Homo sapiens: one gene and its partners. The protein of the gene in region 1 interacts with the protein of each later gene in a pairwise test. Each region holds a gene or a part of one and is shown in the gene's direction. Other genes may lie near its edges. The genes, in order: PLXNB1, MET, MECOM and MST1R.

What was found.
Region 2: the proteins of PLXNB1 (region 1) and MET interact in binary tests that used the Homo sapiens proteins (3 or more experiments, as listed by UniProt).
Region 3: the proteins of PLXNB1 (region 1) and MECOM interact in a two-hybrid assay, tested with the Homo sapiens proteins (one study listed by BioGRID).
Region 4: the proteins of PLXNB1 (region 1) and MST1R interact in binary tests that used the Homo sapiens proteins (3 or more experiments, as listed by UniProt).

The regions. Positions count from the first base shown.
Region 1 is NC_000003.12:48,412,959-48,420,629, reverse strand, and holds part of PLXNB1 (plexin-B1 precursor), read left to right. Parts: intron 1-372; coding exon 373-1,053; intron 1,054-1,263; coding exon 1,264-1,386; intron 1,387-1,590; coding exon 1,591-1,713; intron 1,714-2,087; coding exon 2,088-2,181; intron 2,182-2,266; coding exon 2,267-2,439; intron 2,440-2,567; coding exon 2,568-2,719; intron 2,720-4,178; coding exon 4,179-4,284; intron 4,285-4,462; coding exon 4,463-4,599; intron 4,600-4,870; coding exon 4,871-5,047; intron 5,048-5,282; coding exon 5,283-5,454; intron 5,455-5,588; coding exon 5,589-5,831; intron 5,832-6,558; coding exon 6,559-6,735; intron 6,736-6,811; coding exon 6,812-6,960; intron 6,961-7,092; coding exon of another isoform or gene 7,093-7,243; exon of another isoform or gene 7,244-7,460; coding exon 7,461-7,561; intron 7,562-7,670; coding exon 7,671-7,671. UniProt on the Homo sapiens protein: Receptor for SEMA4D. Plays a role in GABAergic synapse development. Mediates SEMA4A- and SEMA4D-dependent inhibitory synapse development. Plays a role in RHOA activation and subsequent changes of the actin cytoskeleton.
Region 2 is NC_000007.14:116,794,041-116,799,393, forward strand, and holds the end of MET (hepatocyte growth factor receptor isoform b preproprotein), read left to right. Parts: intron 1-1,614; coding exon 1,615-1,751; intron 1,752-1,846; coding exon 1,847-2,084; 3' UTR 2,085-4,337; downstream 4,338-5,353. UniProt on the Homo sapiens protein: Receptor tyrosine kinase that transduces signals from the extracellular matrix into the cytoplasm by binding to hepatocyte growth factor/HGF ligand. Regulates many physiological processes including proliferation, scattering, morphogenesis and survival.
Region 3 is NC_000003.12:169,114,386-169,122,056, reverse strand, and holds part of MECOM (histone-lysine N-methyltransferase MECOM), read left to right. Parts: intron 1-844; coding exon of another isoform or gene 845-847; coding exon 848-1,001; intron 1,002-5,317; coding exon 5,318-6,674; intron 6,675-7,671.
Region 4 is NC_000003.12:49,900,628-49,909,190, reverse strand, and holds the start of MST1R (macrophage-stimulating protein receptor isoform 1 preproprotein), read left to right. Parts: upstream 1-5,317; 5' UTR 5,318-5,581; coding exon 5,582-6,811; intron 6,812-8,563. Other genes in the region: MON1A (vacuolar fusion protein MON1 homolog A), read left to right, coding at 37-177. UniProt on the Homo sapiens protein: Receptor tyrosine kinase that transduces signals from the extracellular matrix into the cytoplasm by binding to MST1 ligand. Regulates many physiological processes including cell survival, migration and differentiation.

The DNA.
Region 1 (7,671 bases):
GTTGGGGGTCCCAGTGTGAGAGTTTTTCTCATGGCCCGGGGTCTGTCTGCCTATGTGAGGCTCTGTCCTGAGCACCAGAGCCGCTGTATGTGACGGACTCCCTGGAGAACAGCCGCCGATACATCCCGCCTGTTTTGGGAGAGGGCATTTGTAGCTGAGAGGCAGGGGATGTCTGGCCTTCATGCCCCACCTCGGCACAGACACCCCTGGAGCCTTCCCCCGCAGTTTTCTCCAGTGGAGAATTAATGGGCTGTTTTTATTTCTCTTTTCCTTGGTCTCCTTTCCTCTTAACATACACTGTGCCTGCCTGCCTCCTGTCCCGCGCCTGCCTGCTGAGTGGCCCTTCCTGTCTTCCTCTGCCTCCCCCTTCAGAGCCCGCTTGTCTCCCCAGACCCTCCTGCAAGAGGTGGACCCAGCCCCTCCCCACCCACAGCCCCCAAAGCCCTGGCCACCCCTGCTCCTGACACCCTTCCCGTGGAGCCTGGGGCTCCCTCCACAGCCACAGCTTCGGACATCTCACCTGGGGCTAGTCCTTCCCTGCTCAGCCCCTGGGGGCCATGGGCAGGTTCTGGCTCCATATCTTCCCCTGGCTCCACAGGGTCGCCTCTCCATGAGGAGCCCTCCCCTCCCAGCCCCCAAAATGGACCTGGAACCGCTGTCCCTGCCCCCACTGACTTCAGACCCTCAGCCACACCTGAGGACCTCTTGGCCTCCCCGCTGTCACCCTCAGAGGTAGCAGCAGTGCCCCCTGCAGACCCTGGCCCCGAGGCTCTTCATCCCACAGTGCCCCTGGACCTGCCCCCTGCCACTGTTCCTGCCACCACTTTCCCAGGGGCCATGGGCTCCGTGAAGCCCGCCCTGGACTGGCTCACGAGAGAAGGCGGCGAGCTGCCCGAGGCGGACGAGTGGACGGGGGGTGACGCACCCGCCTTCTCCACTTCCACCCTCCTCTCAGGTGATGGAGACTCAGCAGAGCTTGAGGGCCCTCCCGCCCCCCTCATCCTCCCGTCCAGCCTCGACTACCAGTATGACACCCCCGGGCTCTGGGAGCTGGTGAGGCCCAGCCCAGGAAGGAGGCCTCAGGGGAGGGGATGTGGGGAAGATGCTACCCCTAGCTTGCCTTGTGATTCTGCACTGGGAGGAGGTGAGGGGCAGGGTGGAGTCTGCAGCCCCACACCGGCCTTGCCTCTGGAATCTGGCAAGGCAGAGGGCTGAGCTGGGCAGGGTGGGCTCCATAGACTGCCTTGCCCTTGGTGCCTGCAGGAAGAGGCGACCTTGGGGGCAAGCTCCTGCCCCTGTGTGGAGAGCGTTCAGGGCTCCACGTTGATGCCGGTCCATGTGGAGCGGGAAATCCGGCTGCTAGGCAGGAACCTGCACCTTTTCCAGGTCAGTGTGTCCTGCCTGCCGCTGTCCTTGCAGCCTCCTTAGCTGTTGAGAAACTCTGCACAAGCCCTGGGGAGCAGGAGGAGGGCAGAGTCCGAGGGCTCAACTCCAACCCAGAAGCTGTGCTGGGGGATCTGTTGGGTGACCTGCAGGACTCCCTGGGCCCAGCTCCTGAAGCTGCCCAACAGCTGTGTTCTCTGCCCTCAGGATGGCCCAGGAGACAATGAGTGTGTGATGGAGCTGGAGGGCCTCGAGGTGGTGGTTGAGGCCCGGGTCGAGTGTGAGCCACCTCCAGATACCCAGTGCCATGTCACCTGCCAGCAGCACCAGGTGCACACCATGAGCGCCTGGGTGGGCACGGGTGCACTGCACTGGCCACAGGCTGGCTGCCAACTGTAGCTGGCTGCACCACACTTTCCAGAGCCACGCTCTGACCGTGTCGCCCTGAGGGAGTCTCCACACCCATTTCTGACCTCTGACCATGTGCCCCGTGGAGTCCTTGCATCCCAGCTCTGAACTCTAACTTGAGACCCCATGGGGTCCCCATACTCCATTTCTGGCTCTGCCCTCCAACTTGTGGCCCCATGGGGTCCCTCTGACCCTATGCTCCTAACTGGTCGTTTTAGTCCTTTCTCTGACTAACCCCTCCCCAGGCCTGACACTTCCCCCAGTGCTTGACTCTGAACCCACTCCCATTTCTCCAGCTCAGCTATGAGGCTCTGCAGCCGGAGCTCCGTGTGGGGCTGTTTCTGCGTCGGGCCGGCCGTCTGCGTGTGGACAGTGCTGAGGGGCTGCATGGTGAGCCACCTGCGGGCTGCTGGGCTGGCGGTGGTAGCAGGGCTCTCCCAGGCCTGCCTCTCACGTGTGTCTCTGCCACCCCCAGTGGTACTGTATGACTGTTCCGTGGGACATGGAGACTGCAGCCGCTGCCAAACTGCCATGCCCCAGTATGGCTGTGTGTGGTGTGAGGGGGAGCGTCCACGTTGTGTGACCCGGGAGGCCTGTGGTGAGGCTGAGGCTGTGGCCACCCAGTGCCCAGCGCCCCTCATCCACTCGGTTTGTTGAAAGGCTGGCCATCCCTTCCTCAGTGCTGCCCTTAGAGGGAGGGTGTGGGGGCCCAAAGGTGGGAGGTTGGGGCTGCCTTTCCAGTTGAGTAGAGGTGAGCAGTCCTTGTCCTGGAACAGGTGGAGCCACTGACTGGGCCTGTAGACGGAGGCACCCGTGTCACCATCAGGGGCTCCAACCTGGGCCAGCATGTGCAGGATGTGCTGGGCATGGTCACGGTGGCTGGAGTGCCCTGTGCTGTGGATGCCCAGGAGTACGAGGTCTCCAGCAGGTAAGCTGGCTGCACCCAGCAGGAGCACGGCGCAGCCTGGGGCCTCCGCGGTTGGCGTTGCTGCTTGGGGCCTCCCACCCACCGCTCATCTGCCCCCCTCTCTCCCTGTTCCTTGATCCTGGCCACAATGCCCGAGTGCCAGCGTTGCCACTGAAGACCCTGAGCACCCACCACACCTGTAGGTTCCTGGCCTGGGCTGCTGGGGAATCCTTCCTGGGCCCGTCACTGCCCAGAACTGACTCGTGGCTCTGCTTCCTGCTCTGCTCACCTGGTCTTCTGAGGGACTGTGGATATATTAATAGCTGTGGCAGCAGGACCCTCAGATCAGACAGATAAGCTCAGGGGCTGGCCTTCTCACCAGCTCACTCTTCCCCAGGCATTGTCCTGGGCTGCCAGGCTCTTCAGGAAGGTAGACTTGGAAGGCACACCTCAGAAAGGCACACTGGCCGAGGGCCAGGCTCCACTGTCGTCTCTAGGGACCCCTGCTGCCTTCCTGGGGCTCCTGGGTTATGGTAACCTGGCCAGCGGTTGCAGGCCCCAAAGGTACACACGCAGGACATTCCTAAGGAGATGTCCATAAGCAGCAGGGCCCAAACGTGGCTGAATATCAGGGTAACCTGCAGATCCTGTCCCAAACCAACACAAACATCTGGATTCAGGAGGCCCACGGTGGGGCCCCCAAATCTGTATTTGAAACAAGGAACCACTCTCCTGGAGCACGGAGTGTCCCCTGAATGTGTTATGACCGAGAACTTACGGTGACTATCTAGACTGTTAGTGTTCCAGACCATAAGACTGCTGTGATTTATGAAGCAATTAGCATATATTCTGTCTGGAGCCTCCCCTGGGTGGCTCACACGTCACTTGTGTCTTCCTAGTGTTTGCAACAACTGTGACAATGTCACTGAGTTGAGCCACTGCAGGCTTAACACTCTGGAAGTTTAATTTGCCCAAGCTTCTATTTTCTGGCTAAGAACCAGCATTTTCTTAGATGGTTCACTTTCCCTTCACCTGTATTTCCCTGTCTGACTAGAGGCTTTCAGGGACTCTTTTTCCTGAATAAATCAAGTTTCTACCATGCTTTGAGTGGGTACTGTGCATGTGACGTGGCGGAGGACATGGGCGGCTAGCTGTGCCCACTCACTTGCTCAGCAGCTCGCCCCACAACCAGGCTGACAGGGCCCCTTTGTAAATTTATGCCACAGATAAATTCTTCCTTATTGGGGGCCCCTGGGGTTGAACTTAAATGATTGAAGCCACAAATATTAATTCTCAGATACCAAGGCCTTCTGATGTGTCATAAAGAATTCCCTCCAAAGTGAGAGAGGGTCTCTGTCAATCTTATGGAGCATGGGAAGGGGAAGACCACCTGACAGTAGGGCAGGGAGAGGGGCTGCCAGGTAAGCTTGAGGGGCCCTTGATGCAGCCTGGCACCCCCTAGCCTGCCCTGTGCCTACAGCCTCGTGTGCATCACCGGGGCCAGTGGGGAGGAGGTGGCCGGCGCCACAGCGGTGGAGGTGCCGGGAAGAGGACGTGGTGTCTCAGAACACGACTTTGCCTACCAGGTACCTGACTGCTGAGCCACCCCCAGCTGCCAGCGGGCCAACCTCTCTGGTGGCTCCTCTCAACCCATCTGGTTATTCCTTGGTGGGGCTCCCAGTCCTGGGCCAGCCTGTCTCTCAGGCTGTCCCTGCCTCCATGTGTCTGGTCTGATGCTCATCTCTCTCCCTGTCTGTCCCACAGGATCCGAAGGTCCATTCCATCTTCCCGGCCCGCGGCCCCAGAGCTGGGGGCACCCGTCTCACCCTGAATGGCTCCAAGCTCCTGACTGGGCGGCTGGAGGACATCCGAGTGGTGGTTGGAGACCAGCCTTGTCACTTGTGAGGGCCACTTCCTCATCCTGCAAAAATCCATCTGCTCCAGGGGAAAGATGGAGGGGTCTGAGATCCTGGGGAGAGCAGAAAGGGGAAGAGGGCCAGTCTGCTCCTTCAGAGAGTGGCCAGACCCTCCCTAGCCAGCTGTGGTGGGAGTGCACCTCCAGGGACACCTGGTGGAGACTGCAGTCAGCGCTTGAGGGAAGCCAGTTGGGGCCTGAGTGGTCCAAGTTTTCCCTGCCTGCGCCCCTGCATTCATTCCCACCTCCCCTCCCAGGCTGCCGGAGCAGCAGTCAGAACAACTGCGGTGTGAGACCAGCCCACGCCCCACGCCTGCCACGCTCCCTGTGGCTGTGTGGTTTGGGGCCACGGAGCGGAGGCTTCAACGCGGACAGTTCAAGTATACCTTGGACCCCAACATCACCTCTGCTGGCCCCACCAAGAGCTTCCTCAGGTGTTGGGCCAGGGGTGTGGCTGCATGGCAGGTGGCAGGGAGGTCTTTGCAGCTCCACTATGTGGGGGTTTGTAGGGCTTTATGTTGAGGCACTGAGAATCCCATGCTGCTAGTAGGGGCAAGGGGTCGTGTGGTTTGGGGCTGGGGCTGAGCTGACCTAGCCGGGACTGGGCTGTGCTTTAGGTCCAGGTAACATAAGCCATCTTACGTTACGTAAGCTCACGGTCTGTTTCAGTGGAGGACGTGAGATATGCGTCCGTGGCCAGAATCTGGACGTGGTACAGACGCCAAGAATCCGGGTGACCGTGGTCTCGAGAATGCTGCAGCCCAGCCAGGGGCTTGGACGGAGGCGTCGCGTGGTCCCGGAGACGGCATGTTCCCTTGGACCCTCCTGCAGTAGCCAGCAAGTAGGACACCCTTGGGTACCCCCACACTCTCCCCTTGCCCCATACCACACCCTGGGGACAGCCAGAGCAGGTGCCAGAGGAGGCTCTTCCCATCTTTGCTTGGCCCCTCGTCAACCTGCCTGTCTTCCTTCCAGTTTGAGGAGCCGTGCCATGTCAACTCCTCCCAGCTCATCACGTGCCGCACACCTGCCCTCCCAGGCCTGCCTGAGGACCCCTGGGTCCGGGTGGAATTTATCCTTGACAACCTGGTCTTTGACTTTGCAACACTGAACCCCACACCTTTCTCCTATGAGGCCGACCCCACCCTGCAGCCACTCAACCCTGAGGACCCCACCATGCCATTCCGGCACAAGCCTGGGAGTGTGTTCTCCGTGGAGGTACAGCTCCTACTTGGACCTGGCAGGGCCCCGAGACCCTTCCCTTGGCTGGACAGCACTGCTGTGTGTGGCGGAGAGGCCGAGACAGTAGAGCAAGGGCCGGTGGATGGACATGGCTCCTCATCCTTGCTGTGGTGGGGGCAGAGGGGGCTGGTGGGGGGTGCCTAGCCTAGCATCTGGCACGAGCTGGACTGCTTGGCTGGTGGCCCGGGTCCTGATGCACTCCATGGCAGGCTCTGGAATGACTGCATTTGTATGTTCGGCCTGTGCAGTAGCTGGGTGGTGTGGTCCACATAGGCCATCGGGCTGACCCCCGTTGGCAGCCTGGCTCACATGGACATGCGCTAGGCATGTGTCTTGGACATACACAGTGGGCAGCAGATGGGCATGCGGGCAGACCACAGGTTGATACAGCATCATCACCCCCCTGGTGAGTCATCAGACACAGATTGGGGGCTCCAGCTTTGTTAGGTAGCTGGGCAGGATTTGGGAGGCAGCTTTATGTTCTCCAGATTTTTCGTTCTGGAGAAGAAAGATAGGAAAGGGCAACAAAGGGTGATGAGGAGCAGCTTGGAGGACACCGTGTGACTGGCCTGCACTCGGGAAGGGTGCTGAGAGGCTGTCAGCTTTGCTGCTGCGGCTGGGTCTCAGGGTCCTTCCCACATTTGGGGAGGACAGGATCTGAGGGAAGGGTCCTGAGTGACTGATCGGTGACCCTCTGTTCCAGGGGGAGAACCTGGACCTTGCAATGTCCAAGGAGGAGGTGGTGGCTATGATAGGGGATGGCCCCTGTGTGGTGAAGACGCTGACGCGGCACCACCTGTACTGCGAGCCCCCCGTGGAGCAGCCCCTGCCACGGCACCATGCCCTCCGAGAGGCACCTGACTCTTTGCCTGAGTTCACGGTCAGTGGGCAGGTCCCTGGCCGGGCTGGGCATTGACCTGGGCCAAACCCTTGCTCACAGGTGGCTCCTGACACAGGTGCAGATGGGGAACTTGCGCTTCTCCCTGGGTCACGTGCAGTATGACGGCGAGAGCCCTGGGGCTTTTCCTGTGGCAGCCCAGGTGGGCTTGGGGGTGGGCACCTCTCTTCTGGCTCTGGGTGTCATCATCATTGTCCTCATGTACAGGTGGGTGCAGCCAGATGTGGCTGGGCTGGGGCAGGTCGTGGGATCTGGCTGGACTGGGAAGGGACAGACCGGGCCAGGAGTCAGGAAACATTCTCTGTAAATGGCCAGAGAGTAAATATTTTCGCTTTGCAGGCCAAGTGGTCTCTGTTCAACAACTCAGCTTTGCCACTGTGGCACAAAGGCAGCCAGGGACGACATGGAAACACATGAAAGTGGCTGTGTTCTAACAAATCTTTATAAAAATAGGTTGTGGGATGGATTTGGCCTGGTTGTGGTTGGCTGATCTCTAGGCTAAACTGTGCTGGGCTAGACGGGGCATGGGTGTGTGTGACTTGCTTGGGACGGGACAGGCTGAATCGTACTGGGCTAGGCTTGAGCTTGGCTGGCATGGCTGCATTGGACTGTGCTGGATGAGGCCGGGGTGTGCCTGGGGATTGTCAGGCAGGCCTGGGCGAGTAGGACTCATCTGGCCATCCTCTCCTGACCCTGGGGCTGAGCAGGAGGAAGAGCAAGCAGGCCCTGAGGGACTATAAGAAGGTTCAGATCCAGCTGGAGAATCTGGAGAGCAGTGTGCGGGACCGCTGCAAGAAGGAATTCACAGGTGTGGCTGAGAGAATGGGCCCCGCCCTCCAGAACTCTGCCCAAACCCACTCCCATCACACGGGATTGGTGCTTAACAGGTGCTTAACCTGGCCTCTTCTGCTTAACAGA
Region 2 (5,353 bases), on another chromosome or scaffold:
CACTCTCTTCCTGCAGCCTTTCTCAGTACCCTACTATTATCTCTTTGACTTTTGGCAACCTTTGTACCTCTTTGATATTACTGCTCTATATTACAGCTATTATCTTATTGTCCTGTGTGGCAGTTATCTGCTCAATTCTCTTAACCCTGTTCATTCAGCCCTGGGACCTATCTAGTAACTTGAACAGTAACCTACTCGTATGTGATCAAGGGTCAATTGATACTTGTTAAATTGATTTTAAATGTTAATGCATATTCTGGGACTTGAAAGTTAACACGATGATGTTGTCAGAAGTGATTGTTGATTGTTAAGATTTTCAGACTTTGAAAACTTCTACTTTGCAAAGCTGAATTAGACAGCAAAGTTCTGTAGCTCCCTCCTGGCAAGGGGTTTGAGTTTTCTGTTGGGATCAAGGCAGTCAGCAGCCATCAAGGGTTCTTGCACTTGGGCAAAGAAGTCATTAATGGTAATTTGTATCAGCAATTACAGCATCTACCTCATTTCTTTCTTTCAGTCGCAGCGTTCAAAGGCAGGCTTTATTCTCCTTCTTGCTGGGTACTGCAAGCTACACTTGCCTCTCAGTTTTATGTCTTCCTACTCCAGCTGTCTGGTGTGGATTTTCCTTCTGCTCCAAGCTTCCTTCATTTCTTCCTCCTTATGCTTCCTACTCTTAGAGTGGCCTGGAAGTGTTGCTGGGCCAGAACTGCCCCCCTGGGTCCTGTCCACAGGGGCGGCCTCTGCCCATGCTGACTCTCCTCGTGTCATTCTTGCATGGGCACATGTCCAGGGGGAGATAATATGTATGACCTGGTCTATCCTGAGCACAGTGTTTTAAATCAAGAAATTGCATGTTTATTGAAGTTCAGTAGACCAAACAAGACCTAAGGGTCAGGAACTCTTAAATGTTTATCCCAGTGTGGACTCAGATGTATTGGGGAATTTTAGCAAGTCACTTAACCTCTCCGTGTCCCTGTGATCTTCCTATATAGTACTGATACGGCTATTTTATATGAATCTAGTACTTTCACATCTTCATGTGACAGTTTTATTGAAATTAATTTTCAATAGAGAAACTTGTTGCCTTGCAGTTTTTTTTATTTCTGATTTTTAATATGTATTTTTACTTATGTTGATTTAGACCTTCCCATTTAATAGTAACCTTTCAATGTGGTTACATTTCTTAAAGAGTATTTATGTTCAGTTTGAAACCACACAAATTTAAATTTTGGGAGGCTTTCTTCTTCTTTTACAAGTAATGTAAAATTGTAGTGAAGCTATTGGAAAAGAAAAGGATAGAAACATGTTAGTGCTTTGACACAGCGGGAGAGAATTTTGGAAGAGATATTCTACCAACTACAGATGGAATCTTCATCATCATGTAGACTTCAGATATTCTTTTAGAAAACTTTACATTTACTTATAATCTAAACCTTACTTGTTTAAACAAGTCATGAAATGTATAGCTTAATAATTGCCTTTAAGAAAATTGTTGCCCAAAACAGAAACCGTATTGAGTATGTAAAGCCAAGTTTAGTTACCAAGACCTACTGATTTCCTTTCATATATGTATGGTCACATCTCTCACCTCATCTGTCCTGTTTCTTGTTTTACTAGTGGTCCTTTGGCGTGCTCCTCTGGGAGCTGATGACAAGAGGAGCCCCACCTTATCCTGACGTAAACACCTTTGATATAACTGTTTACTTGTTGCAAGGGAGAAGACTCCTACAACCCGAATACTGCCCAGACCCCTTGTAAGTAGTCTTTCTGTACCTCTTACGTTCTTTACTTTTACAGAAATGCCTGCCTTCAAAGGGTCTCTTACAGCATGTCTTTCTTTTTGGAACAGATATGAAGTAATGCTAAAATGCTGGCACCCTAAAGCCGAAATGCGCCCATCCTTTTCTGAACTGGTGTCCCGGATATCAGCGATCTTCTCTACTTTCATTGGGGAGCACTATGTCCATGTGAACGCTACTTATGTGAACGTAAAATGTGTCGCTCCGTATCCTTCTCTGTTGTCATCAGAAGATAACGCTGATGATGAGGTGGACACACGACCAGCCTCCTTCTGGGAGACATCATAGTGCTAGTACTATGTCAAAGCAACAGTCCACACTTTGTCCAATGGTTTTTTCACTGCCTGACCTTTAAAAGGCCATCGATATTCTTTGCTCTTGCCAAAATTGCACTATTATAGGACTTGTATTGTTATTTAAATTACTGGATTCTAAGGAATTTCTTATCTGACAGAGCATCAGAACCAGAGGCTTGGTCCCACAGGCCACGGACCAATGGCCTGCAGCCGTGACAACACTCCTGTCATATTGGAGTCCAAAACTTGAATTCTGGGTTGAATTTTTTAAAAATCAGGTACCACTTGATTTCATATGGGAAATTGAAGCAGGAAATATTGAGGGCTTCTTGATCACAGAAAACTCAGAAGAGATAGTAATGCTCAGGACAGGAGCGGCAGCCCCAGAACAGGCCACTCATTTAGAATTCTAGTGTTTCAAAACACTTTTGTGTGTTGTATGGTCAATAACATTTTTCATTACTGATGGTGTCATTCACCCATTAGGTAAACATTCCCTTTTAAATGTTTGTTTGTTTTTTGAGACAGGATCTCACTCTGTTGCCAGGGCTGTAGTGCAGTGGTGTGATCATAGCTCACTGCAACCTCCACCTCCCAGGCTCAAGCCTCCCGAATAGCTGGGACTACAGGCGCACACCACCATCCCCGGCTAATTTTTGTATTTTTTGTAGAGACGGGGTTTTGCCATGTTGCCAAGGCTGGTTTCAAACTCCTGGACTCAAGAAATCCACCCACCTCAGCCTCCCAAAGTGCTAGGATTACAGGCATGAGCCACTGCGCCCAGCCCTTATAAATTTTTGTATAGACATTCCTTTGGTTGGAAGAATATTTATAGGCAATACAGTCAAAGTTTCAAAATAGCATCACACAAAACATGTTTATAAATGAACAGGATGTAATGTACATAGATGACATTAAGAAAATTTGTATGAAATAATTTAGTCATCATGAAATATTTAGTTGTCATATAAAAACCCACTGTTTGAGAATGATGCTACTCTGATCTAATGAATGTGAACATGTAGATGTTTTGTGTGTATTTTTTTAAATGAAAACTCAAAATAAGACAAGTAATTTGTTGATAAATATTTTTAAAGATAACTCAGCATGTTTGTAAAGCAGGATACATTTTACTAAAAGGTTCATTGGTTCCAATCACAGCTCATAGGTAGAGCAAAGAAAGGGTGGATGGATTGAAAAGATTAGCCTCTGTCTCGGTGGCAGGTTCCCACCTCGCAAGCAATTGGAAACAAAACTTTTGGGGAGTTTTATTTTGCATTAGGGTGTGTTTTATGTTAAGCAAAACATACTTTAGAAACAAATGAAAAAGGCAATTGAAAATCCCAGCTATTTCACCTAGATGGAATAGCCACCCTGAGCAGAACTTTGTGATGCTTCATTCTGTGGAATTTTGTGCTTGCTACTGTATAGTGCATGTGGTGTAGGTTACTCTAACTGGTTTTGTCGACGTAAACATTTAAAGTGTTATATTTTTTATAAAAATGTTTATTTTTAATGATATGAGAAAAATTTTGTTAGGCCACAAAAACACTGCACTGTGAACATTTTAGAAAAGGTATGTCAGACTGGGATTAATGACAGCATGATTTTCAATGACTGTAAATTGCGATAAGGAAATGTACTGATTGCCAATACACCCCACCCTCATTACATCATCAGGACTTGAAGCCAAGGGTTAACCCAGCAAGCTACAAAGAGGGTGTGTCACACTGAAACTCAATAGTTGAGTTTGGCTGTTGTTGCAGGAAAATGATTATAACTAAAAGCTCTCTGATAGTGCAGAGACTTACCAGAAGACACAAGGAATTGTACTGAAGAGCTATTACAATCCAAATATTGCCGTTTCATAAATGTAATAAGTAATACTAATTCACAGAGTATTGTAAATGGTGGATGACAAAAGAAAATCTGCTCTGTGGAAAGAAAGAACTGTCTCTACCAGGGTCAAGAGCATGAACGCATCAATAGAAAGAACTCGGGGAAACATCCCATCAACAGGACTACACACTTGTATATACATTCTTGAGAACACTGCAATGTGAAAATCACGTTTGCTATTTATAAACTTGTCCTTAGATTAATGTGTCTGGACAGATTGTGGGAGTAAGTGATTCTTCTAAGAATTAGATACTTGTCACTGCCTATACCTGCAGCTGAACTGAATGGTACTTCGTATGTTAATAGTTGTTCTGATAAATCATGCAATTAAAGTAAAGTGATGCAACATCTTGTATACTGATAGTGGTTATTGCCAGTCATGCTTGATTACCTGCATTTGCATAATGATAGAGGAAGCCTAAGATGGATTTCACCTGGCTGCATAGAGCTCATCCATGTAGGAGAGCCTTAGTCAAGTGAATGCTGAGGAAGTAGTAAAACAGCATGCATCCCCGAATCTCAGGAAGTCTCTGTCTTTCCAAGGGTTTGGTCTAAGTTGCTGATTACCTGGATTTTTCTGACGATCTTTCAACTGCTAGAGCATCTGGTTCCTGTTTTAGCATGGTGCTCTTCTCCAGCAAGGTGTGTCCTTAGACTAGAAGACACAAAAATGGAGCAGCAGCCACACCATTGGCGCACAGATACCTAGGTGTGGGTTGGAGAGAGAGGCCTTCTTGCCCCATCAAAACTACTCTTTATCTACACAGGTGCCCACCCTTTTACCCCCAGTTACCAGAGAAATTACCTTCAGGTTATCTCCATGTATATTCTTGTAATGGTAAGGGAATTCAAAGGTGATAATTTCAGCCATCTAAGAATTGTGTGACACATTGGGGGTAATCTAATTTTAAAAGAACCCAATTTAAAATAATGCCTACAAAATACAATGGACACTGATCCTTTACTGGGAGATAATTCAACCCCCGCTCACGGCCAAACTCTCTCCCACTCAAAAGATGCATTTCCCCAGAAAGTTCAATCCAACTCTCTCCCATAAGGAGAACAACCTGTCATCTTTACATCTCTAGAATCCGGCACTTAGTAGATTCTCAAATAATTGCTGAACTGAAACAGCATTTTCTTATTCCCCATCACTTTATTTATTTATTTATTTATTTATTTATTTATTTATTTTTGAGACAGGGTCCCACTCTGGCCCCCCCAGCTGGAGTGCAGTGGCATGATCTTGGCTCACTGCAACCTCCACCTCCTGGGTTCAAGCCATTCTCCTGCCTCAGCCTCCTGAGTAGCTGGAATTACAGGCACACGCCATCACGCCCAGCTGATTTTTGTATTTTAGTA
Region 3 (7,671 bases), about 120 Mb from region 1:
GGAAGTACTCAACTTAGACCATAACTGTGAACTATGGTAAAAGTAATTCACTTCTTTTAATTTCATGTTTCTTGATTAACTCAAAGATGTCCTGGTGTCATTAAAGTTGCTTTCTATTTCCAAAACACATTTCCTAGCATTTTAATAGCTTTTTTTTTTTCATGCCAATGGAAATTTCTGTACCCCACCAGGTTACTGGGTAGTCATTCTCCTGTGATTACCTTGTTCTATGCACATTAAAATTTTGTATGTTTTTTTCTCATAAAAATTAAAAAATACATTTGAAATTTCTTTAGGGATGTTTTGCTCTCAGATGTGTTGGGTGGCTTTTTTATTTTTGTTTTTAGTACAATGTCTAAAGGAATGGTTTTAGCTTGCTAGTAACTCACTGAAAGAGTGTTAGAATTTTACGCCCTAGGGAAACTCTTTAAATAGATTTAATGTAGTTAGTCAAAATCCTCCAAATTTTTGTACACAATGTGTCTTTATTTAAAGGGTGAAAATAGCACACCAGTTTTAATAATGGCTTAACCAGCATTTTATTATTCAACTCAAGTCACTCTAAATGGTATCAAAAAGGCCTTGAATATGGCCTAATAGTGCCATTCATTATTTGGTTCAACTGATACCAGTGGATACACCATGCTAAGGATATAGAGCAGAATAATTTACAGTTCCTACCCTAGAGGAGAGTACATTTTGGAAATTAGAGGAGAGTACACTTTTGGTCTTTGGGGAAAAGAAAAACAAAACAAATAAGAAAAATTTCTTCTTGAGTCATCCCGGGTCTTCTTTATTGTGCCCTTGAGTTAAGTTTCTTGATTAATCAGTACTCATTTCCTAGCAGGTTTTCACGGACCCTAGCAACCTTCAGCGGCACATTCGCTCTCAGCATGTCGGTGCCCGGGCCCATGCATGCCCGGAGTGTGGCAAAACGTTTGCCACTTCGTCGGGCCTCAAACAACACAAGCACATCCACAGCAGTGTGAAGCCCTTTATCTGTAAGTTTTCAACACTCCAGCCCTCCTTCCCACATCTGTCTCTTCCCCAAAAGGCACTGTGACCAGGAGAGTGGCTGCACATGGCCTTTAGAGGGTCACCGTGTTAGCTATTTATGGTCCAATCCAGTAGGGCTATTTATGATTACAAGTAAATCTTTTATAATCAGATCCATGGTATTTTGTCCTTGATTCCTGGGGTGTTTTCTTTCAGAAGAAATCAATAACAGGTAGAGAAAAGAAAATTCATTAGATAATCAAAGGGAAACCTCCACAGGTTGTAGGATTTAATCAGGACAATCAGATTTGTCTCATATTGTAAATGTTCATGGCTTTGTAAAGCAGCAAATAGCAGCCATCACTAAACAAGATGAAGTGATTAAAAACCTGTTCTGGATCAGAAAGAGCTGGAAGAAGCCCACCTGGGAAGTAGGCTTACGGCTCTGTGTGCATGTATGTGAGTATATGTGTGTGGAGAGAGCGAGGGGGATGAAATGCTTTTTAATCTACCCATTGTTGCCGATCACAGGCTGTCGGATCTGTAGTTCTCTGTTACTTGAAGAAAAGCAGAACATTTTCACTTAGATGCTGGACATGCTGTTTCTCTTACCCACTGCACCAAAGCAAGTTTATAGGCAGTGTGCTTTTAGGGGACATCTGATCTGACCACCTACTTAGAACATCCCTGTACAGAGCACTGTAGTAACATCCTTCAAATACAATAAAACTCAGCTCTCATTTGCTTTTTCTTCTCTCCGCCCACTCCTATTCTCTGTATTGTGCTCAAACATTTTATAAGTAAAATCAGTTGTTCTTAGTCTACCTGGGCAAAAAATCTGGGCTTCTTTTAATCCATTGCTTGGCGGGGCATATAAATACAATGACTTATTGAGTTGTGCTACAAACGTCAAGACTGATTTTGGACCCAGATACACATAGAATTGGTTGAAGCATACTCAGCACTTGGCAAGACCTCTGACTTTGGTTTGTAGTAGGTATATGAGACACTACTACAGGACCTGATGGAAAAAACTATTTTTCAGTGCCAACATGGAGATGCCAGAGACTAACTCTCCTTTGCCTCGACACAGCTTTCTTTTGTGTGTCCAAGCACCAAAATAGCTTTTCTTTCCTTTTCCAGCTTACACTAGAGTCCTGTTTTGCTCATATGCTCTTCTGTTCCCCGGGTGAAGAGGACTAGCAGATTAAAAAAGGGTGCTCTCATCTCCCTTGGGGAAGCTCTATTGAAGGTCACGGGAAATAAAGCATTCAATAGAAATTTTAGACTTCTTGTCGCAAAAAGGCATTCCTGACTCTTAAGTCTTAATGCCCTGAAAATGTACTTGGAAGTACTACAGGCATACGATATTAAATAGTTCATTTATTTCTGATTCCTCAGAAATAAATTTTGGTAAGTTTTATTATGTTTTGATGTGAGAAAAAACTAGAATAAACCACAAGGAATTCTGATCACTCATTTAATGCTTTCTCTATTATTTAAAATAAAAGTCAGAAAATATAGACTTCTGCTATCGAAGATTCTGGGATCTGGAATTTTAATTGTGTTGAAGACAAGTGTTTCACTTTAAAGTGCCATAGGGTGTCCCTTTCCAATCAGATTGCATAAAGTATTTCCCTTGAATGTATTTTCAGTAATTATTGGTAAATTTAAATAGCAGATGGCATTCTTCAAATTTAAAATCTGCCAGAGAACCATGGAGTAATTATGAATAATAGCCATGTAATTTCAGAACAAAAGAGATTAAAGATCAGGAAATGGTGTGGAGACTTGAGTGGAGGAGGTTCACCTAGGGCTGATATCTGTTTCTCACCAGAAGGCCACACACCACGATTTACCCCCACTGGTGTGTTTATGGCAACTGTCTCTTATTACAGTGTGCTGCCACGCTTGAGCCCAAAGTCACCAGTGCTAAGGTAATTACTCACTGCCTTTACAGAAACCTACAGCTTTCCCAAATAGAAACCACATGCTCTAATAGGCTGAATATATTCAAAATGCCTCTTAATTTGTTTAATAAGTAGAAAAATGCAATGTTAACTGCTGGCTAATTCCTTATTACTGAGAAAATTACAGTAGAGTATAAACTTCAACATCAATTGAACCAGTTTACCTGGAGGCCTGGTAGTTTGTGGTATGCCAGGCCAGGCCTTCAAGTGCCGAAAACAAAGCCTCTGCCTAAGAAAACATCCCAGATTCGATGTTCTTGAGCCCAGACACAGACAGCACTCAGCCATGTAACAACGGGTGCCACCAGAAAAGTCAGCTGAACTTCTGTTACTCCAATAGAGAGAAGCTCTTGATTTTTTTTTTTTAAGCCATCTGATTGTAAGAAAGAAGTGTAGAGAGCAACATTTCCTTGCCAAAAAATGACAAGTCTTTGAAAAACTTATGTCTTGGTTGAATACTCATCAAGACATTTTTTCAATGCCTTTTAAGAGGTGTTGCTTTCTTACTTTTTATAATTCCAATAATAAAATATTGTTATTGCTTGTAGCTATAAATTATTCTAATATATCTAGTAAACATCTGATGTTTCTACCTTCTCCATTATTTGATTTTAATTAGTGTATCAAACAGTTTAAATTAGATGTATATTTATGGTGTATGGTTAAATTGTATATACTTTTAAAGCTGACTCTGGTCGATATATTCTGGTAAAATAATTTGAAAAGATATCACCCACATCTTCTATTCCCATTAAAATGCATGTTACAGCCTCTGTAACGTTGTGATTCATCCCACAATTGAAGGCACCTTTAATATTACCAAACACTTTGATATATGCAACAATACACTTTAACCTTTAGTAGTAAAAGAAAGAGATATACCCTTACTTGGTACTTCCTGTTTGGATGTATGTGGGATAATCCAAGCTCTGGGTGAGTTTTGCTTGACTGAAAGTCTATAAAATCTCCTTGACATGAGTTTTTTTTTTTAATTATTATTGCTTTGACTTAGAAGCACAATCATTCTGCACTTAAAGGCAGCCATCATATGAAAGCAATAACTGTTGCATTTTGTCTTCAATTTAATTTCTTAAAATAAATTTGCTTCAACAATTACCAACAAGGTACATCTTGTTTCTGCATGTATTGAACATGCACAGAAGTGTTAAAATAAGCTCACACATAACGTGGCTCAATCCCGTAAAGTAAAATAAAAAATGTGATGCTCAGGGTACTGATACTGTAATACTGCTGGACAGTGAAGTGAGTGATTCTTACCTGGTAAAGGAGTTATTAAGGGTTACAAAGTTTGGTCTTAAAATATACTTGGCTATAGTGGCACATGTGTGAGGAGGAAGATTCTACTTTATTGACAAATTCTTAGCAAAGAGGCATATTTCACAGCTGCATCCAATGCTGTGCCCTTCTTTCTGGATTAGAGCTTTCACAGTGCTCTCCCCTACTGAGCATAGTTGGCTATAACACACAGAAGTCAAGCCTGAGATAACCAGTGTAGATATGACAACAAGTGGACATGTTTCCCAAGGACGGGGTTTTCATAAATGCAGGAAGGTTAGCACAACCACTGGTGTGAGGGGAAGTCAGAGGACGTGATCATAGTTCATGGGAACCAGCAATGCAGGATGGGCTACATTCAATTTAGTTTCCTTTGCAGGCTTAAAATAGAGCCATTGTAAATTATGTCAGTCTTTCTCAAATCATGAAAATGATTGTTAAAAAAAGTCTCAGAATACACAATGTGCATTGTTGTGTGGCTTTGATGTGTGAATGATGAGAGCATATGATATAATACCAATTAAATAATAGCAGGGCAGTCACAGGCTTTTTCCCCAAGGGGAGAGGCAATAAAGGTGAAGTTTCTGGTTGAGGATATTTTATTTTGTTTTGGTGCCTACAAAATAGAATTTTTAAGTACTCTAAAATTTGAAAGGGGTTCTTGTTGTGTTTTGTACGTAATGCATTTTAAGACTAATTTTCAACATTATATTAGTATAATAATTGTGTGGAGAATCAATGCATGATGGAATTTAACTTTTCATAAATATTTAAATACACAAATATTATGCAAAATATTGCACAAGGGGGTGACAAGATATATATATCTATATATATGAAATATTTGTGCTGCCTCAAGACATTTGTCAGGTTGGTTGCCTTGCTTTGGAATCTAGTGAAATGGGGTTTTCTGTGTTTGGAGCACCCAGATTGGTGCCTCCAATGTCTTTTACTGGCTTCCTAATTGAAATTTTGAGTAAACCAATTGTGATATTTGCTAAATTCAGAAGCAATTGACATAAAGCCTGAGATTCTTTTTTGTTGTTTGCACACAGGTGAGGTCTGCCATAAATCCTATACTCAGTTTTCAAACCTTTGCCGTCATAAGCGCATGCATGCTGATTGCAGAACCCAAATCAAGTGCAAAGACTGTGGACAAATGTTCAGCACTACGTCTTCCTTAAATAAACACAGGAGGTTTTGTGAGGGCAAGAACCATTTTGCGGCAGGTGGATTTTTTGGCCAAGGCATTTCACTTCCTGGAACCCCAGCTATGGATAAAACGTCCATGGTTAATATGAGTCATGCCAACCCGGGCCTTGCTGACTATTTTGGCGCCAATAGGCATCCTGCTGGTCTTACCTTTCCAACAGCTCCTGGATTTTCTTTTAGCTTCCCTGGTCTGTTTCCTTCCGGCTTGTACCACAGGCCTCCTTTGATACCTGCTAGTTCTCCTGTTAAAGGACTATCAAGTACTGAACAGACAAACAAAAGTCAAAGTCCCCTCATGACACATCCTCAGATACTGCCAGCTACACAGGATATTTTGAAGGCACTATCTAAACACCCATCTGTAGGGGACAATAAGCCAGTGGAGCTCCAGCCCGAGAGGTCCTCTGAAGAGAGGCCCTTTGAGAAAATCAGTGACCAGTCAGAGAGTAGTGACCTTGATGATGTCAGTACACCAAGTGGCAGTGACCTGGAAACAACCTCGGGCTCTGATCTGGAAAGTGACATTGAAAGTGATAAAGAGAAATTTAAAGAAAATGGTAAAATGTTCAAAGACAAAGTAAGCCCTCTTCAGAATCTGGCTTCAATAAATAATAAGAAAGAATACAGCAATCATTCCATTTTCTCACCATCTTTAGAGGAGCAGACTGCGGTGTCAGGAGCTGTGAATGATTCTATAAAGGCTATTGCTTCTATTGCTGAAAAATACTTTGGTTCAACAGGACTGGTGGGGCTGCAAGACAAAAAAGTTGGAGCTTTACCTTACCCTTCCATGTTTCCCCTCCCATTTTTTCCAGCATTCTCTCAATCAATGTACCCATTTCCTGATAGAGACTTGAGATCGTTACCTTTGAAAATGGAACCCCAATCACCAGGTGAAGTAAAGAAACTGCAGAAGGGCAGCTCTGAGTCCCCCTTTGATCTCACCACTAAGCGAAAGGATGAGAAGCCCTTGACTCCAGTCCCCTCCAAGCCTCCAGTGACACCTGCCACAAGCCAAGACCAGCCCCTGGATCTAAGTATGGGCAGTAGGAGTAGAGCCAGTGGGACAAAGCTGACTGAGCCTCGAAAAAACCACGTGTTTGGGGGAAAAAAAGGAAGCAACGTCGAATCAAGACCTGCTTCAGATGGTTCCTTGCAGCATGCAAGACCCACTCCTTTCTTTATGGACCCTATTTACAGGTAAGCGTGTATGGAAGATGACGAAATATGAGCAGATGTATGAAAGGCGGTATTTCCACTGTAAAGTGATGGCTTTTTAACACATCATTTTTACTATTATTATAAAACAGAGTGAAGTTGTTTGATCTAGTGAACTCATTTTTTATTCTGAAAGTTGGATCATTCTGTTTGAACTTATTTTTGGATGTTTCTGAAGTTGGGGGTTTGGAATAGGCCTACAGAATTTTTTTCCCTTGACAATAAATTTATTTTTAAACACTTTTTTTGGAGTGGAAAATATGGGAAAGTCATATTTAAAGTAAATTGTCAAGTGGCGGAAGAATGAGGATCCTGAAGGATTAATGCAAATATGCGTGGGTACTTAAATGGGTCAGGTTCTTTGGAATGGGGGGGATATCTAACAGCAAGAGTCCACTCTTTTTTGACCTACCAACACATCCTTAATAAGGGCTGGTCATATTGTTTCTAAATAAATCTCTCAGGAGCCCCCAAGTAAATGAAATATTAATCACAGAATATGTTTTGTATATAATATGAGTAGTTGGCTTAAAAAATGTCTCTGTTTAATAGCTTCATTATCCGGTTTCCTTTGATGTAGCAAAAAAATCTTGGGGTGAAACATACAAGTTTAATAAAAGGCCTTTTTGGCAATATTCAGTAATATTCACCTGACCAAAGTGATTTAGTTTTAAAATACTAGTTTTCTTTAAATGGGTATGAATAATAATATGTTTGTTACATATTTTGAATATTACAAACATTTTCACATTTACTTTCTCATTCTAATCTTGAACATTGTCAAGAGTTCATGGAACATCTGGATAATTTTTTATTGAACTTATTTAACATCGGAGTATTTTCATATTTTGCCTAATTCTCTTTCGTGAAGAGAAAATGTGCTATTATTTAATTCAACAATATTTATCAAGTTCATATTACTTAATAGGTACTAGAGCTGCAAGTTCTTCTCACTTACAATTCTTCTTCTATGTATATT
Region 4 (8,563 bases), 1.5 Mb from region 1:
TCTAACCTAGATGACGACCCTTTGCCCCTTCTCCAGGTGACAGGCGCCTTTGAGCTCTACATGTGTTACAGCCCCCTGGGGACCAAGGCGTCAGCCGTCAGTGCCATCCATAAGCTGATGCGCTGGATCCGCAAAGAGGAAGACCGCCTCTTCATTCTCACGCCCCTCACCTATTGATGGGAATGTGTGCGGGCTCAGCCTTCCTGGACACACTAGGTGTGGGAAGCCATAGGAGCCTCCAGATGGGGGCTGGCCTCTCTTGCCCAGCCAGCGGGCAGGGACTGTGGGTTGGTGAATGCATTAAAGTGCTTTGGGGAAGACACTTGTCAAGCTCTGTCACTTGTCCCTTCGCCCATCCACCCTCACTCACATACAGACACTGGATCCTCCTCCGTAGCTCCTGCACAGGGACACAGGCACATTTGAGCCCCTCTCCTCCCTCCCTTGCACCAGCATGAGGCCACACACATTCTCAGCTGGATCTTGGGCTGGGGCCGTTTTGGTTTAGTTGAAGTCCTACCATATATAAAAAGTTCTCAGGCACCATACTGCCCTACCCTACCCCCACCCCCATATTCAGTCTGAGCTTCTGCTGTCTGCCTCTCTTATCACTCCTGGGAGGGGCCCCCTGCTGCATGCCACAAAAGACTACTCAACCACCTTCAGAGCCCTCGCTGTGGCTCTGTTTAATGGGTTGCTGTAGTTCAGCAGAAGCTGAGTTGAGTAAGATACAGATGGTCAAAATGGGGGGAGTCTGAGCCCTGGTACTGGATGGAGCCCCTGGTGAGGCAACCCAGTCTTCAGCTGAAATTCAGAATCCAGTCTCCCTTTAGCTGCAGGCCTCTGAGGAAACTGTCCCTGCTCAGGCCTTCCCATGAAGGGCTGTATGCCTCAGTTCTCCTACCTCAGCCAGTGCATTCCTCCAAATGGTCCTCAAGAGTGAGCTGAGGGTCTGAGAGAAGGCCCAGTTGACCCTCTAAGGCAGAAGTGGGCCTGCCATAATAAGAGCTAATACTGCTACGTGCACTCGGCCCTCCTTAGTCACCCTAGTCCCTGGCATGGCATAGGCAGACCTGCATGGGGCACCATGGACATCCAGGAGGCTCGGCAGTGAAAGCCCAGCCCCATTTACTCTACCACAGGACCCAGGGCACAATGCAGAGAGCTTCCACTTTGCTGCCGGGGGATCTTCTAGTTCTGGCCCCAGGGAACACAAGGCCTAGGAAGTACTTATTGGAGAAAACTGTCCTCTGAATGTGGTCTTCAGACTGTCAGAGAGAATCACCCTCATGCAGTTTCTGAGAGTTGAGCCAATATTTTCTGCTACTAAAATCAAGCCATATTGAAGAATGAGCCTGTGTGGGTGACATGGACCCAGGGTACACTGGAACAGTTGTATTTATTGTCCCAGAAAATGGCAGCACAGCCCCTGCCCTTGGCCCCACTGTGGCTCACATTGGAATGGGCATGGCAGCAGGCTACCAGCCCAGATTCCAAAGCCTCCGGGGAGCAGCCATAGGCTTGGTGGGTGCTGTTCACCCTGCACACATGCCCTGGGTCTCTTTTATGCCTGTTTTCTGCTTTTGTTCCTCCCCTGCTCCTAGTAAGAACACCAAACCACTGCCTCTGGGGCCTGGGTGATGCCAAGCCAGCTGTCCCTGATTGTTACTGGCATTCTGGTCAACAGTGAGCCCCTAAGTGCCTCTTTTGGTTGCCCTGACTCTTGTAGGTTTCTCAGCTTCTGTGTAGTTCAGCATATATTCTGGGGAGATCATAGTTGGATAAATGTGTATACCTAGGACTATAGGCACCTAGGAGTGTGGGGTGTACCTGCTTGGAGATCAGGGGTGGGAAGACAGACAAATAGGGAAGGTGTTCGTAGTGGAAGAGCCAGCATGTGCAAAGGGAAGGACCTGGTAAGAACCTAGTACAGGCCGGGCATGGTGGCTCACGCCTGTAATCCCAACACTTTGGGAAGCCAAGGATTGTATATCACTGGAAGTCAGGAGTTCCAGACCAGCCTGGCCAACATGGTGAAACCCTGTCTCTACTAAAAATACGAAAATTAGCTGAGTATGGTGGCGTGCGCCTGTAGTCCCAGCTACTCAGGAGGCTGAGGCAGGAGAATCGCTTGAACCCAGGAGGCAGAGGTTGTAGTGAGCCGAGACTGCGCCACTGCACTCTAGCCTGGGCGACACAGTGAGACTCCGTCTCAAAAAAAAAAAAAAAAAAAGAACCTAATATAACTTGTTTGCAGTGAAGCTGGAGTGGTCCACACAAGGGCTGGGGTTCTCAAACTCCAGGTAACCTGCAGTGTGATGTGGTCATATTACAGTTAGAGAGACTCCCTTGCTACTGCTAAGGTGATCTTGGGATTAGAGAAAGAGGTTAGACCTAGTTCTCTAGAACAGTGTTCAGAGGGGACTGAGAGCTCAAGGAGGGAAAAGTGGCTAGTATTCCTTCAAGGCGTCAGGTGCTAGGGCAGTCGAGCAGGTTCTTAGCCAGCTATGTTAGCTTGGGGGTGCCCTTGTACTTGGCACTTAAGAGTCCCATTAGCTGACCTCCCCCACACACCTTGACTGCCCCCTCCTATAGAGGCGGCAGATGGCGAGAGGGGGAAGGGGTGCTCCTGTGTACCCCTGCTGTTGAGAACCAAGGCTGCCTTACAGGGGACCTCAGCCTGGGGACAGCCATTAGCGCGGCCACACGGTGGCAGCGGAGAACTAACGGATGGTTGCCGCAACACCACCCCCAAAAAGGGGTGGGTGGGGTGATCTAAGAGGGCTTGTGAAGTCTTCTCCCAACCACCAGAGATCCCTCTGAAAGTCTGGAGGTGGGATTTGGGTCACCAGAACCCCTGTCTGTGCGCCAGGCTGAGAATGTTTCATTTTAGTTTTGCCTTGCCTATCTTTAGATGTGTTGACTGTGGAATGCAGGAACCACGCCACGGTTTTCTCCGGGTGTTTATTCATTTCCTGGCCAATTCTGCTTTGGAAAAGGAGTGTCTTTTATGTCACCTCAGGGCACAGTATCAACCCTGCACTGGGTGTGGCCGCCCCCACTTCCATTTCCTCTTTCAGTCTTCAGGTGCTCATGGAGCTCCAGGCTGGAAGGAGGGGGAGTCCTGCACTGGGGATGGAGGAAGTGAAGTATCCAGAGTAAACTGTGCTGGGGTGAGTGTAGCACTGGGTCTGTGAGACCCAGGAGAGGGGACTGGCAAAGTCTGGATCAAAAAGGCTTCCTGGAGGAGGTGCCATTTAGGTGGCAAAAGGAGAAAAGGGAAAGAGTGCTCCTGGAAGGAGGAACAGCACTTACAAAGGTCAGGTTAGGAAGGGGATGCAGGCACAGAAGTATGAACTGAAAGGGGAGTGAGGAGATATAGCTCCCCAAGCCAGGCTAAATCCTGTTGGGCTGAGGGCTCCTCTCTCCCCCAGCCTCCTTATCTACAGCCTTGGGGCCCATAGTTCACAGCCCAGACCCACCCTGTGGACCTTCCCTGTCTTCTAGGGTCCAGGCCTATCTAACTGAGGGGTCTGTCAGGCTAAGGTTGTCCCCCAGGGGCCTCAGTCTAGTGTTGGGGGACCAGTTACCAAGGGGCAGCTGCTGAGATCCAAGTGTGGGACTAGGCTCCCCCACCCCCACTCCTCATAAACAGAAGAGAGAACTCTGGGAAATCACCTAGTCGGAACTACGTTTTCTTTTTCTTTTTTTGGAGATGGAGTCTCGCTCTGTCACCCAGGCTGGAGTGCAGTGGCACAATCTCAGCTCACTGCAACCTCCACCCCCTAAATTCAAGCTATTCTCCTGCCTCAGCCTCCCTAGTAGCTGGGATTACAGGCACCCACCACCACGCCCGGCTAATTTTTGTTTTTAGTGGAGATAGTTTCACCATGTTGGCCAGATCTGTCTGTTCACCATGTTGGTCTTGAACTCCTGACCTCAAGCGATCCACCCGCCTCGGCCTCCCAAAGTGCTGGGATTACAGGCGTGAGCCACCACGCCCGGTCACATATTTTATTTTAAAAACATTTTTAGCAGTTTTTTTGTTTTGTTGAGTTTTGTTATGTTGCCCAGGCTGGTCTTGAACTCCTAACCTCAAGCAATCCTCCTGCCTTGGCCCCTCAAAGGAGTGCTAGGATTACAGGCATGAGCCACGGTGCCCAGCCCAGAACTACATTCTCATTGAAGAGAATAAGATCCAGCAAGGCCTACAGAGCATGTTGGAAGTGTCCTGAGAGCCAAAGCCCATGATTCCTCCATATCAGGGGGGCACTGGGTAGAGCCAGGAAGGAAGGGGGAGTCCCCAAGGCCCATACTGTGGACCCCATTATACAGCTTCCATATACTGAGGCTGCAGAGGAGGTATGGGCCTCCACTTACGTGCCTCTCTGACTCTGAGGTCCAGTCAGCAAGGCCAGATCCCATCCTAAGACCCTTATGGCCCTGGGAGAGCAGGGCATAACACACCTTCCTCTGACACCATCTTGTCGCTGATAGCTCAGGAGAAGCACATGGAAGAATGGTCCCGGCCGGGCGCGGTGGCTTACGCCTGTAATCCCAACAGTTTGGGAGGCTGAGGCGGGCGGATCACCTGAGGTCAGGAGTTTGAGACCAGCCTGGCCAACACTGTGAATCCTGTCTCTACTAAAAATACAAAATTAGCCGGGTGTGGTGGTGCGCGCCTGTAATCCCAGCTATTCAGGAGGTTGAGACAGGAGGAGGTTGAGGCTGGAGAATCGCTTGAACCTGGGAGGCGGAGTTTGCAGTGAGCCGAGATCGCGCCACTGCAATCCAGCTTGGGCCACAGAGCAAGACTCCTTCTCAAAAAAAAAAAAGGACAGTCCTTTCCCACAAAGGGTGGCGCCCCATAACATCTCTTGTAAGTGCCCCACATCTCCCCTCTGGTCTTCCACACAATCCTGGTCTCTGTTCTCCACATGGTGGGCCCCCAGGCCACCTCTGGGCACCAGCCACTGAGGGTGTTGCTACTAAGTGCAAACTAGTTCCACCGCAAGCAAAGAGCCCAGTGTCCTGCCCCCCTTCTCGCTGCGAACCAGTCGGTAGTGGGGGGATGGGATGGGACGGCTCAGACTGGCTCACCTCTCTCCAGGCCACACCATGCACATCCACCCACAGGCCGCTGAGAAAAAGGCGCCAAGACGCCAGGTGAAGGTACAGGAGCCAGGCCTCCAAGGGCCGGAAGAGTCGGATGGGCGGAGGGCCTGGGCTAGGCCAAGCCTTCCTCGCGGCCCCGCCCCCACGGCCCGACTCCGCCCGCCCAGCCCGGCGCCCTCGGGTCGGCTGAGCGCTAAGCGCCAGTGTACAGCGGCGGCTGGGGCGGCAGGTGAGGCGGCTGGGGCGTTGCTGTCGTGCGTCCGCAGGCGTCAGGTGCTCAGACCCGAGGGCCGGGAAGGGATTTGGGTTTCACAGGAACCTGGGGCGGGGGTCCGCTATCTTGGGGCTGTCGGGACCGCTGCTTAAATTTGGCCCAGTCCAGACCTCGAGTCGGGCCCCCAGCCAGGCCCACGCCCAGGTCCAGGCCCAGGCCGGTAGGGATCCTCTAGGGTCCCAGCTCGCCTCGATGGAGCTCCTCCCGCCGCTGCCTCAGTCCTTCCTGTTGCTGCTGCTGTTGCCTGCCAAGCCCGCGGCGGGCGAGGACTGGCAGTGCCCGCGCACCCCCTACGCGGCCTCTCGCGACTTTGACGTGAAGTACGTGGTGCCCAGCTTCTCCGCCGGAGGCCTGGTACAGGCCATGGTGACCTACGAGGGCGACAGAAATGAGAGTGCTGTGTTTGTAGCCATACGCAATCGCCTGCATGTGCTTGGGCCTGACCTGAAGTCTGTCCAGAGCCTGGCCACGGGCCCTGCTGGAGACCCTGGCTGCCAGACGTGTGCAGCCTGTGGCCCAGGACCCCACGGCCCTCCCGGTGACACAGACACAAAGGTGCTGGTGCTGGATCCCGCGCTGCCTGCGCTGGTCAGTTGTGGCTCCAGCCTGCAGGGCCGCTGCTTCCTGCATGACCTAGAGCCCCAAGGGACAGCCGTGCATCTGGCAGCGCCAGCCTGCCTCTTCTCAGCCCACCATAACCGGCCCGATGACTGCCCCGACTGTGTGGCCAGCCCATTGGGCACCCGTGTAACTGTGGTTGAGCAAGGCCAGGCCTCCTATTTCTACGTGGCATCCTCACTGGACGCAGCCGTGGCTGCCAGCTTCAGCCCACGCTCAGTGTCTATCAGGCGTCTCAAGGCTGACGCCTCGGGATTCGCACCGGGCTTTGTGGCGTTGTCAGTGCTGCCCAAGCATCTTGTCTCCTACAGTATTGAATACGTGCACAGCTTCCACACGGGAGCCTTCGTATACTTCCTGACTGTACAGCCGGCCAGCGTGACAGATGATCCTAGTGCCCTGCACACACGCCTGGCACGGCTTAGCGCCACTGAGCCAGAGTTGGGTGACTATCGGGAGCTGGTCCTCGACTGCAGATTTGCTCCAAAACGCAGGCGCCGGGGGGCCCCAGAAGGCGGACAGCCCTACCCTGTGCTGCGGGTGGCCCACTCCGCTCCAGTGGGTGCCCAACTTGCCACTGAGCTGAGCATCGCCGAGGGCCAGGAAGTACTATTTGGGGTCTTTGTGACTGGCAAGGATGGTGGTCCTGGCGTGGGCCCCAACTCTGTCGTCTGTGCCTTCCCCATTGACCTGCTGGACACACTAATTGATGAGGGTGTGGAGCGCTGTTGTGAATCCCCAGTCCATCCAGGCCTCCGGCGAGGCCTCGACTTCTTCCAGTCGCCCAGTTTTTGCCCCAACCCGGTAAGCTGAAAGAAGGGGCCCTTACTTGTGAGCTGCATGCACATGGCTGAACACAGGCTGCTTCCCTTCCATCACTGAGGGGATCTGGGGGCGCGGTGGGGGGGCAGGCGGAAAGAAGCATTCTCTCTCACCCAGTTCCTAAGTGCTGGGGTGGTGTGAGAAACCAGCCAGACAAAGGCTACACTGGAGGCTTAGCTCCCAGGCTGGCCCTTGTGGCTGCCTCATCTTGCTCTTTCCCCTACCTGCCCATCATGGCCTCTGGTTTTTTAGGTAGTTTCCCTGGCTATGTGAGGATAGGGTTACATAACCGTGTCTCTGTTAGCATAGCTCCTGAATGCTGGGTAGAATGATGGGCATTCCCTCCTACTTGTCCACCACCCATATCCTCAGGGACACACGCAGAAAAATAGCACTCCCCCCTCCCCTCCCCCACCCCCGCCACCACCACCACCACCACGCACAAATACACAGGGAGATGCTCACAGATTCACAGACTCACAGCTGCTTGCCAACAGTTTCACTTTCCCTTGTTTTGCTCTGCTTTCCAAAGGGGGTGGGACGGGAGTTGTCAGAGAATCTCCCCTTCCTCCACACCCCCTCCCCCCACCCACCCCCATCCTTCTGCCAGCCACCACGTTCCAGGGAGCCTCCTGGGCCTTGGAAGTTGGGAGCTTGTTAGGGAGCCTGCATGTCCTGGGCTTCACTAACGTTTTTGCCATGATTGGGGGTGATTGGGGGAGTACCCAGAACTCATGGAATGGCAGCTTGGTTCTAGAAGGTTCTGGGAGCCTCACTCTAGTCTTGTGCAAGCAACTATAAACATCTGGGGATAAGTAAAGGCCTAGGAAGGGCTGGTTGGAATTGGTCCATCCCAGACTTTTTTTTTTAACTGTATTTGGAGCCCTACCCCAGGCAGGAAGTCTCAAAGCCTGTGCTGAACTGGGGGCTCCTTCCACAGACTCTATCTAGGTTCTCTCCAGCCATCGTGTAGGCAACAGCAGTAAGATTGGACCAAGGAATGGGACCCACAGCTACTGTTCTTAGATTCTCTAGCTATCATCCTGTGGCCCTGGGCCTGCTGTGACATTCTCGAAAGACTCCTTTCCGCTCCTATTGATGCCTCGGAGATGGGAGAACTTACACCCAATGTGAGGTTGGGGGTCTTTAGCCTCCCTCCCTCTGCTGAGTACATCTGGGTTGAGAGGCCCTAGGGTTGGGGACTCCTTGTCTGGGCCTGGGCAGGCCTGCCTGGCCCCTTCTCCTTCCCAATGGGGAGTCAGAACCTCTCCCCAGCTTGCCTAGTGGTCAGTGGGTCAGAAGACACCCAGCACGGCTGGGCAGTGCCAGGCTCCAGGAAGACTAATCTTGGTCCCTGCTCACAGGCTGGCCAGGCCCCCAGGAGGTGTGTGAATCACCCCGTGCAGTGTTTGCCCAGCAACTCTGGGCATGCAGCCACTAGGGCAGCACCCACATAGTGGTTGGCCTCAGGAGGCCTGAGGGACTCAGAGCTGGTGCCTGTCCTCCATGGGACATTGGACACTTACGTGTTTTCAGGAGCTGGGGGCCCCTACCTAAGCCTGGGAACGTAGAGCTAAGGTCCTGGGGCTAGGGACAAGCAGGCTAGGGTGTGGGCCTGACTAAGGTAGGGCTCTATTCCCCTTCAGAGCCCCACCTGTCCCTGAGTCATGCTAGAAACACCTGGCAGCCTTCCGGCTCGGGCCAAGCCAAGCCGATTTCCTGCCTCAAGTGAGG